Linked DNA regions of Homo sapiens: region 2 is linked to region 1. The links come from fine-mapping of genetic effects on gene expression. A gene starts in region 1. The other region holds a variant in brackets. All regions are shown on one strand. Distances are between the middles of the regions.

The links. PIP is the estimated chance that this variant, and not a neighbour inherited with it, causes the effect.
Region 2: its variant is the best candidate, but not a certain one, in a credible set for the expression of RAPH1 in whole blood (INTERVAL, PIP 0.88).

The regions. Positions count from the first base shown.
Region 1 is chr2:203,533,288-203,538,666 of GRCh38, forward strand. RAPH1 (Ras association (RalGDS/AF-6) and pleckstrin homology domains 1) reads right to left here and starts at 2,014. Exons shown (of 14, transcript NM_213589.3): 1 at 1,824-2,014. RefSeq lists silencers at 1,783-1,882, 1,953-2,042, 2,093-2,162.
Region 2 is chr2:203,894,672-203,900,050 of GRCh38, forward strand. No RefSeq gene overlaps it. Among named protein-coding and RNA genes, the nearest start is that of CTLA4, 30 kb to the left of the region's middle. The variant G/T (reference allele first, on the strand shown) is at 2,933.

The DNA of each region.
Region 1 (5,379 bases):
TTCAAACAGGAGACAGCAATCTAAATTATACAAAATGTCTAACCCAAAAAATCATGAATTAAGCTTTTTGTACTTACTTGAGTAGGGCTGCATCTGGTTTCTGGGAAATTCACCACACAAAAAGCAAAATAACGGAGACAATCTTTGAAGGTCAGACTCAACAAGAGTTAAAAGCTATTGAGCGTCTCTATTTTGCCCCTCCCCCAAAGGTCCTCCCCCTCAATTCGGCTCTCAAAGGATAGCACCACCATGTGAAATGTCCTCCTCCCCATCTGAATCTGCTGAAATCCTACTCATCCTTAAAGGTTTCACTTAAATGCCGAGGCTTCCATGCATTCCTCCCTCAATTTAGAATTAATCTCTCTTCTTCGCTCTCCTATTCTATACCTCAACATTTTACTATATAGTTCACTGTATTACACTTACCTACATTCACTAACCCCCCGCACCGCACCCCCAAAAAAACCACCCCGAGGAGGAAAGGAATTTAAGGTGCTGTTAAACACCTCTATGCCAGGCAAGGTGCTACGCATTTTGCATACATTATCTCATTTAATCTACATGAAAAACATCTGGGGAGGTAAACAGGTGGTGTTATTCCCATTTTACTGATAGGGAACGTACTGCAGAGTTCAATAGCTTATCCAACTCACATTGCAAGCCAATTCCAGGGCGTACGGTTTCCCCCACTCCGAAGAGCTCTTTCCACCACCCCATGCTTGTTCACCTGGTGTCACCCAGCCTAACTGACAGAGTAGGTATTCCATAAATGTTTGCTGAATTTAATATCCCCATGGACTGACTCTTTAATAATCCGATCACGCCTCATCCCTAACCCGTTACCTTTACTGTTCCTTAACGGTGGACTTTACCTACATAAGCAGCTCTCCACATTTCCCTGAGAAATGCTGCAGACAACATCAACCCTTATTGGAAGATTGAGTGAAGAACTTTTCCATTCTCCCGGATTTCCCCAACGGATCTTCCCAAAGAATTTAAGAAATGCACACACGCAAGACACATGTAACACTTACACCCTCCCTCAAGGCTCTTATTTCATATTAAACCATGTCTTCGAGCTTGTAAGCAATAAGGTTTATGCGGTTTCCAGCTCACACAGTGGGGACACCCTAAGTCACTGCCTTAAGAAAACCACATCTTTCAACCTGTCTTAACACGAAGGCATCCTAATACTATCACACTGCCCCCTCCCTCCGTCCACCCCCCCCCCCCCCCCATGAATTGCAGTTTGGATTTCCGGCGGGAATGTATAATACAGACCGCAAGAGGAGACGCGGTTAAAAAGCAATGAAGCAATTACTTATCCTGTTTAATTAGAAAGAAGACACAGAAGGAGCCCCGCCTTTCAAAATCTCTGCACTGAACTCATCTATGAAAGATGGGGGCATCGAAACCCAAGCAACCCGACATCCAGTAGCTGGTTTCTGCAGCTGGGCGGGGGAAAGTCCTTTCCTCCCTGCGGTCCCGGGCCACCAGCCCCCGGTGCTGGGTCGGAGAAGCCTAACCGCACCCTCCCAGGCGGCCCCTTATCTCATTGTCTCCCTCCGTCGCGGTCCCCAGGGGCGCAGGGTGCAGTCCAGGCCCCACCGACCTCCATCCACCAGCCGGGAGCGGTCCAGCCAGCCCCGGCCCGATCCCCAACCTGGCAACGACCCCGCCCCAGGCTGCCGCCGACCGTACCGCACCCGGATGGCGGGGCCGGGCGCCGGGAAAATGGAGGCGGGAGCGGCAGGAGCGCCTCACGGCCCCGCGCCCAGCCGGCTCCCTACCCCCTGGCCCCGAGGGCGAGGCTAACCACTCACCGCGGCAGTCGGTCGGCCTTCCCGCGGCCCCGGGCAAGGAAACCGCCGCTCGCGCTCCTCCAGCCGCTGCCTCCGCCTCCTCCCCAGGCGCGGCGCTCCCTCGCCAGAGACGCAGCGACTGCCAGCAGCTCCCGCGCCGCGCGCTCAGTGACTGACTGACTGACTGACTGACTGACTGACTGACTGACTGGCGGGCGGCGGCGGGAGCGGGGGCGGGGCGGCCGCAGCGCCCCGCGGCGGCGGCGGCGGCGGCGGAGCCGAGTGTGCTCGCGTCCAGCCGAGACGCAGAAGGCGGGGTTGAGGGCCGGACTGCCGACTGTAGGGCCGACTCGCGCGGGACCGCGCGCCGCCCCCGCCCGCCGCCAACCACTCACTTCCGGCGCAGGCCGCCGCGCCCGCCGCCCTTCCCTAGCCCGCGCCCCGCGCCGGCCCTCCGCCCTCCCTTCAGGCGCCCGGCCGCGCCCGGCCGCACTCAACCGCGGCTCCGCTCGTGCCTCGCCTTTCCTCCGCAAGTCCCTGTGAGCCGCCTACAGGAACGAGTGAATCAGAGAATGAATGAGTGGGGAGGAAAATCCCAGTGCTGCCCCACCCCCTGCTCGCCTTTCATAGGAAGCCGGCCCAGCAGCCTCTGTCCTAGCGCCCTGGGAGGCACAGCAGCCTCCAGCAGTTCTGTCAGGGAGCTGTACGCATCCACCTTTATACGCTGTCCGTGTATTCAGAGACTCCAGAAACGCATCCGGGGTTGGCTCGGTCACTTACAGGACCATTGTCGTTGAGATCTGTGAGGCCCTTCTTTAGGAAATCCCATTTTGGCCAAAAAGTCTCTGCAGTTTCATGGAATGTATTGGGAAACTTAGGAACGGGACATTTCGATGACCTTTACTTTTTAAACTTCGAAATCTGTTAATCCTGCCTCCTTAATTTCTGTCCCCCCACCCCATCGGAATTGTGTAGTAGTAAGGTGTCGGCATTTTTCCTTATCGCTAAGCTCAGCTGCTGCCTCTTTAGATGCAGGCTTGACTTCGGCAGACTTTTAGATTTTAAGTATGTCCTTATTTTGACCTTCACCTAAAGTTGATCAAAGAAAGGAACAAATGGAACTAAGTTATGTTTGCTTGGCTACATGCAAAGCAAGTTTGTTGACAGCATTAAAACAATTGAGAAATTGGGAGTGTGACCTGAAATTGGTTGCAATGAACATTGCTTTTTCATGTCTTCCCATCTGCTTGCTAAGAATTTATTTAAATTTTCACAAAGCATTGACTGTACATTCCTGAAATCCTAGCTCCCTCTCTAAGAATGAGAGTGTTCATTTCTCTGTCCTGGGGCCAAATCCTGGTTTGGTTAATTACATTCTTACTTCCTGATATTCTTGAGGACTTTCAAGTGGTTTCAGTCTTTTTTGTACAATCTGTTCCAAACTGGTACACAATCTGTTTCAAATTGGTATTTAGAACCATACAATACAGATACTGGCTGCCTTTCACACTTGAGATATCTGTACTTTTGAAACATAACTGCCCTTTTGTATTTTAAGTTCAGTAGGTATGTCAATATTCTTGTATAGAATAATACTATCTCTTGACTGGATTAAGAAAATGTGGCACATATACACCACGGAATACTATGCAGCCATAAAAAAGGTTGAGTTAATGTCCTTTGTAGGGACATGGATGAAGCTGGAAACCATCATTCTCAGCAAACTATCGCAAGGACAGAAAACCAAACACCACATGATCTCACTCATAGGTGGGACTTGAACAATGAGAACACTTGGACACAAAGCAGGGAATATATCACACAGGGGCCTGTTGGGGGGATGGAGAGGGGGGAGGGATAGCATTAGGAGATATACCTAATGTAAATGATGAGTTAATGGGTGCAGCACACCAACATGGCACATGTATACATATGTAACAAAGCTGCACGTTGTGCACATGTACCCTAGAACTTAAAGTATAATAAAAAATAAAAATAATAAAAGAATAATACTATCTCTTATAAATGAAGATGATCCTGCTGACCAACTTCTTTTAGACTTCTCTTCCTTTCTTGTGGGAATCATCATTTGCCACCTAATTATTTCAAGAAGTTATCCTCCAAAAGTGAATATAATACAACACTTTATTCATCCTTGTATCTCCCACAATATCTAGCATAGTATCTTGCACAATAAGTATTTATAAATTAATAAATGCTTTAAAATTTTTCATAAGTGATAATTTTATACAAATGTATCTAGTCTTTCACCTCATTTCCCTTGTGACCAAGTTTGTTGACATTAGACACACCTGGGTGCCAAACTTAATGAATCCTATTGTCATTAAATGTACTAGGCTGTGTGATACCTTACAAGGAAGATGATTCATTTAAACCTCCTTAAAAAAATAGACGATTGAAGCCAGGAGTGGTGGCTCGCACCTGTAATCCCAGCACTTTGGGAGGCTGAGGTGGGCGGATCACCTGAGGTCAGGAGTTGGAGACTAGCCTGGCCAACATGGTGAAATCCCATCTCTACTAAAAATACAAAAATGAGCTGAGCATGGTGGCGGGTGCCTGTAATCCCAGCTACTCAGGAGGCTGAGGCAGGAGAATCACTTGAACTTGGGAGTGGAGCTTGCAGTGAGCCAAGATCCTGCCATTGCACTCCAACCTGGGTGACAAGAGTGAGACTCCATCTCAGAAAAAAAAAAAAAATAGACCATTGAGTGCCTTTTACATAGGTCTTAGCCAACTCTTCTCCAAGTGCTTAGCCTAAGATCAAGGTTAATTAAAAGAGAAAAAAGGTCACTTTCAGTCATTGAGAAAAGAGTGTTCTCATCAGTTTCTTTAAACCATTAAATCATTCGTTCATTCAATCAGAGTTTATTAAGCTACAATTAAGGCCCAGGAATACAAAGACAAGAAAGACGTGGCATGATGCTTCCTGCCTACAAAAAGCATACAGTCTAGTGGGTAAAGCAGGTAAGGAAGTCATTGTTAGACTGGAAGTCCATTACCAGATCAGGAAAGCCTTCCTGATGGGGAGATTCTTGAACTGAATGTTAAATGATAGGGAGGAGCTAACCAGAAGAAGGAGGGAACAAGCATTCCAAACGAAGAAAACAATATCTCTGCAGGTGTGTGGAAGCACCAAGCATCACCATGCTTTAGAGGCACCGTAAGTGTATTAGTCCGTTTTCATGCTGCTGATAAACACATACCTGAGACTGGGAAGAAAAAGAGGTTTAATGGACTTACAGTTCCACATGGCTGGGGAGGACTCACAATCATGGCAGAAGGTGATGAGGAGCAAGTCACATCTTACATGGATGGCAGCAGGCAAAAAGAGAGCTTGTGCAGGGAAACTCCCATTTTTAAAACCATCAGATCTCATGAGACTTATTCACTATTATGAGAACAGCACGGGAAAGACCCACCCCCATGATTCAACTATCTCCCACTGGGTCCCTCCTACAGCAGGTGGAAATTATGGGAGCTATAAGATGAGATTTGGGTGGGGACACAGAGACAAACCGTATTAGTAAGTAATTCCATTTTGTCAGAACAGGCATAG
Region 2 (5,379 bases), 360 kb after region 1:
TTGAGAGTCTGAAGCAGAGGCTTGCTTGAGCCCAGGAGTTCAAGACTAGCCTGGGCAAGAAAGTGAGACCCATCTCTACAAAAAAGTTAGAAATTAGCTGGGTGTAGTGGTGCGCACCTGTAGTCCCAGCTACTCGGGAGTCTGAGGCAGGAGGATTGCTTGAGCCTGGGAGTTCCAGGGTGCAATGAGCTATAATTGCATCATTGCACTCTTGTCTGGGTGACAGAGTGAGACCCTGTCTGAAAACACACACACACACACACACACACACACACACACACACATCCCCACAACAACAACACAAAAAACTGCTGCTTGGGTCCCAACATAGACCAGTTATAGACCAATTGAATTAGAACCACCAGTGCTGGGACATAAACGTTATTTTTTAAAAACTCCCCAGTTGATTCTAATGTGCAGCTAGAGTTGACCATTGCAGATAAAGCGCTACATCAGAACGAGTTTCTAGGTACAATTGAACCCTTCTTCTCGTTGCCAACTGTGGGATAAAATTAGGAAAGGGAAACACTTCTGCTTTCCCCCTTCATGTTTCAAGAATCCCTCTTAAGGTAATTCATTAGAATTTAGAATTTGAACTTGGTGAGTGTTTCTTCTTTGCCCTGTTCGTCTGGCTGATGAACTTGGTGAATTTTAAAGCAAATAATAAGCCGGTTGTGGTGACATGTGCCTGTAGTCCCAGCTACTTGGGAGGCTGAGGCAGGTGGATTGCTTGAGCCCAGGAGTTTGAGGCTACAGTGAGCTATAATTGTGCCACTGCACTACAGCCTGGGTGACAGAATAAGATTCTGTCTCTAAAAAAAAAAAAAATAATAAAAGAAGATAATAATGAGCACTAGGAACTCTGAGCACAAGGACTTCTTTAAGTATTCTATTATGATGTGATTTGGTGGAGTGAGGCATTACAGTTCCAGTTTCCTAGGCTTTACAAATGGGACCTATCAAAAGAGGGATGCAGAGAATAAGGAATGAACACTTGGATTCAGGGGAAACCCAAGAAAAAAAAATTTATTGGTTAGGGGAAGTCTGATGACAGTGAGCCAGGAAAGAAAACTCAGGTACTTGAGTACTCAGGTGCTTCAAGGTTATTCAGAAAAAAAAAAGAGAGAGAGAAAACAGAAAAAAGAATAAAAAGCCTTTTTATGTTTTTCTATCTTTTTTTCTCTCTTTCCTCTCTGCTTTCTGAATGCTGAAGGAAAGTATTATGGTCACTGGTAAAAACAAACATTCTGACATATGCACACGTATGTTTATTGCAGCACTATTTACAATAGCAAAGACTTGGAACCAACCCAAATGCTCATCAATGATAGACTGGATAAAGAAAATATGGCACGTATACACCATGGAATACTATGCAGCCATAAAAAGAATGAGTTCATGTCCTTTGCAGGGACATAGATGAAGCTGGAGTCCATCATTCTCAGCAAACTAACACAGGAACAGAAAACCAACCACCACATGTTCTCACTCATAAGTGGGAGCTGAACAATGAGAACACATGGACACAGGGAGGGGAACATCACACACTGAGGCCTTTTGGGGGGACAAAGGGAGGGAGAGCACTAGAACAAACACCTAATGCATGTGGGGCTTAAAACTTAGATGATAAGTTGATAGGTGCAGCAAACCACCATGGCACATGTATATCTATATAACAAACCTGCATATTTTGCACATGTATCCCAGAACTTTCTGCACATGTATCCCCGAACTTAAAGTAAAAAAAAAAAAAAAAAAAAAGACAAACACTCTGAAATCAGAAGGACAGGCTTACCTCCCAGCCAGGCTTCTAAATTGCCGTCACCCACTTTGCTTTATTTCTATGAGTCCCACCTTCTTTTCTTATAAAAAGGATAGAAAGAAGATTAGTGTATCTGTTACTCAATATTGCTGTGAGGTTTCAGTATCTTTGGGCTTAGCAATTTAAAGAATTTTAAGCGGTTGTGGCACAAAAGTTTTTTTCCTCATATAGTATCTGTGCAATCATGCCTCCAAATTCTGTAATATTTAATTCTTCTTGGAAAAAAAAACAACAACAAACCAAACCCCCAAAACAAAAACCTTATTCTCTGAGGTTAAAATCTATAGTATATCTAGTTTCATGTAATAATCTGGCTTGGAAAACAATCAGCCAAGCTTCCTAATCTCCCTTTCCATTATCTCCTTTCCTTAGGGCCTATGGCTTGGTCCTGGTGGTCCCTAGAGGCGTGTGCCAGTTATGGAGGTGGAGAGAAGGTACTCCAGAGGAAGGAGCTTGAGAAAGGAAGCCTGTTGAGCTGATCATAATTCAGTTCCCTGATGATGGCCTGGACAGTAAGCAGATATAGAACATTTTTAGAATTTTTGTCTCTTTCATTTGATTTATAGCCCAATTCCACATATTTTGCTCTCAATCTTTCTACTCCTTGCCCCAGTTCTGAAGGGGGTCAACAAAAAAGATGCCATTTTTGTGACCTTGAGAATCAGATCCTGTTTCTCCTTTCTTTAACCTGGCAGACGATGAAGGGATAAATTCTCAGGTAGGATGGGGGTCATTTGCACGCTGTAGGAAGGTTTCCAGGTGGTAGGAAGAGGGTTGCCAGCTTAGATGGATGTAACCAGATTTGATCTACCAAGAATGATGGTGATTAACTGACTTCTCTTTAATTTTTTAAAAAACAGGATATTGCTGCCCAGATATGTTACACTTGTGGTATTTTGGGGTATTCTCCCTGATATTGGTGCCAGCATGAGCCATAGAATCACATTCTCCAATAGTAGCTAAGCCTCCTTCCTGCCTCTGATTGGACTTTCTGGGCTCTGTAATCCTGTTGATGGCCTGAAAATGTACTAAATATGCAGCCAGGGCAAAGAAATTGCAAAACGTGCTTTACCTAAAAATAATTATGTTTTTTCCCCTCAAAGGTCCAGA[G/T]AAAATGTTATTTAAGTCAATGAATACAGCCATCATTTTCATGGGGCCTCTCTTAATTTCCTTCTTTCTTTTTTTTTTTAATTTCTTGAAATAGTTAGTTCCTTATCTGTCTTTCACTTCCCATTAGAAAGTGCTGACATTCTGATTTTCTGTAATCTTATTACTCTATGTGACTTCTATAGAGCTCTTTCTTATTTTTTCTTCCTGTTATTTTTACTTTTGAACATTTACAGGGTGTTAGCTGTCAATGACAATGAACCCCAACTATGGTCTTTAATCTTTTCACGGTGGGGCTCCAAGATCTTTATAACTACCAGCAAAGAGCTCTGTGATTTGCCAAAATTCAATCATAAGGAAGAGTAACCCCCTCCACACTGTTTTTATTATGGTCTTTTCCCTCCTTGCTCTACTACATTTGTGGGCATAAAGCTTTGGGGGAATGAAAAGTGGCTGCTTGTCACCAAAACTTGGGGACTCCTGCTTTCTAGAGAAATCTCAAGAGATAGTGCCATTCTCATAAAACTTTCTGTCTTTTCAAAATCCTCCTTATAGTTTAAGAGTAAAAATTTCTAAGCTATATGTTACCTTTTTATTCTTTTTTCCATTTCATTCTAAAATATCAGGATTTACATTTCAAATACTACTGTCAATGAGGTTATCATATGTAGCTCTAATTTATCCGCTTTCTTGGCCAACTCCAAAAGAACAGGCTCAGCAGCGAGGTCTTGATACCTCTTTTTCCCCCAGCGTCACAATCTTCCCTAGCTCCTGGGCAAAGTGATTATCAAAAGTAGATGCATTGGAGGGTGTGTGTGCAACTCTGCTTCTCTGTTGTTACCCAGACCCAGGAATCTAATAATAACAATTTGTGATGGTTAGTTTTATGTGTCAGCTTGACTGGGCCATAAGGTGCACAGATATTTGATCAAACATTATTCTAAGTGTGTCTGTGAGGATGTTTCTTGAGGAGATTAACATTTAAATCAGTAGTCTGAATAAAGCAGATGGCCCTCTCTAAACTTGGGTGGGTCTCATCCCATCAGTTAAAGGCCTGAATAGAACAAAAATACTGCCCTTTCAATGAGTCAAAGGGAACTCTTTCAATTCAAAGGCCGACTGTCTTTGAATTGGGAATAGGTTTTTGTTTTTGTTTCTGTTTTCCTGCTTCTGGATTCAAACTGAAACATCAGCTCTTCATGTGTCTTCAGCCTGCTGGTCTTCAGACAGAAATTACACCATTGGCTCTCCTGATTCTCAGGCCTTTGGACTCTAAGATTAGAATCATACCATTGGCTTTCCTGGGTCTGCAGTTTGTCAACTGCAGGTCTTGGAAATTTTCAGCCTCCAAAAGTGTATGAGCCAATTCTGTATAATAAATCTGTCTCTCTCTTACTCCCTCTCTCTCGATTCTGTTTCCCCAAAGAACCCTGACTAATACATGGATATAATAATTTTACACTTGAACATCACAAAATCTCTTGATGTTGAAAGGGAGATCTTGATTCCCATGTTTTCATAATAAGCACTTTGGGAGACCATGAATCTTCATGTGTAGATCTTTTTGGATCACTTGGTCTAGTGTATAGACTTGGACCTGAGACCCAGTTTCTAATCCCATTTCTGTTACCAAGTGGCTGTGTGATTAGGGACAAATTACTTCTCCTCTCTGTGCTCCATTTTCTCATCCCTATGAGAAGGATCACAGGGGATTATCCCCAGTGTTTTTTTTGTACTTCTAAAATCCTAGGGATTTAAATTTTTTAAGTAGGAATGGGATCATGTCCTTTGCAGGGACATGGATGGATCTGGAAGCCATTATCCTCAGGAACAGAACACAGGAACAGAAAACCAAATGCTGCATGTTCTCACTTGTAAGTGGGAGCTGAACAATGAGAACACATGGACACAGGGAGAGGAACAACACACACTGGGGCCTGTTGGTGGGGCAGGGGAGGGAGAGCATCAGGAGAAATAGCTAATGCAGGTGGAGCTTAATACCTAGGTGATGGGTTGACAGGTGCAGCAAACCACCATGGCACACAACACTACCTCTTCTTACCTTCTCCATTTCTCTAAGATATGGGAGGTAGGTCTACTTTGCCAAATCAAAACATTGGCAATGATCTGTCAAATATAAGCTCTGAAGATACCTTTTCTGAGAATCTAGGTTCCCAGAGGGGAAATATTTTTTTCTCCTGAGCATTCTGCTTTCTCTATTCACAGACAGATTTTCAGCTAATAGCTCTTCTTTTTCCCCAGGAGATCTGAGCAGAATATTTTCAGAACGTAGACACAGACATACTTTCTTGGGCACGGACTTACATACACAAATAAGCACACTGACACATAGAAAGACACCTACACCAAGCTGCTCACTCAGAGACCACTCAGAATCCAAGAGATTAAACTTGTGCATGCTATTAGCATGGCTTTTAAAGGGAAGAGCT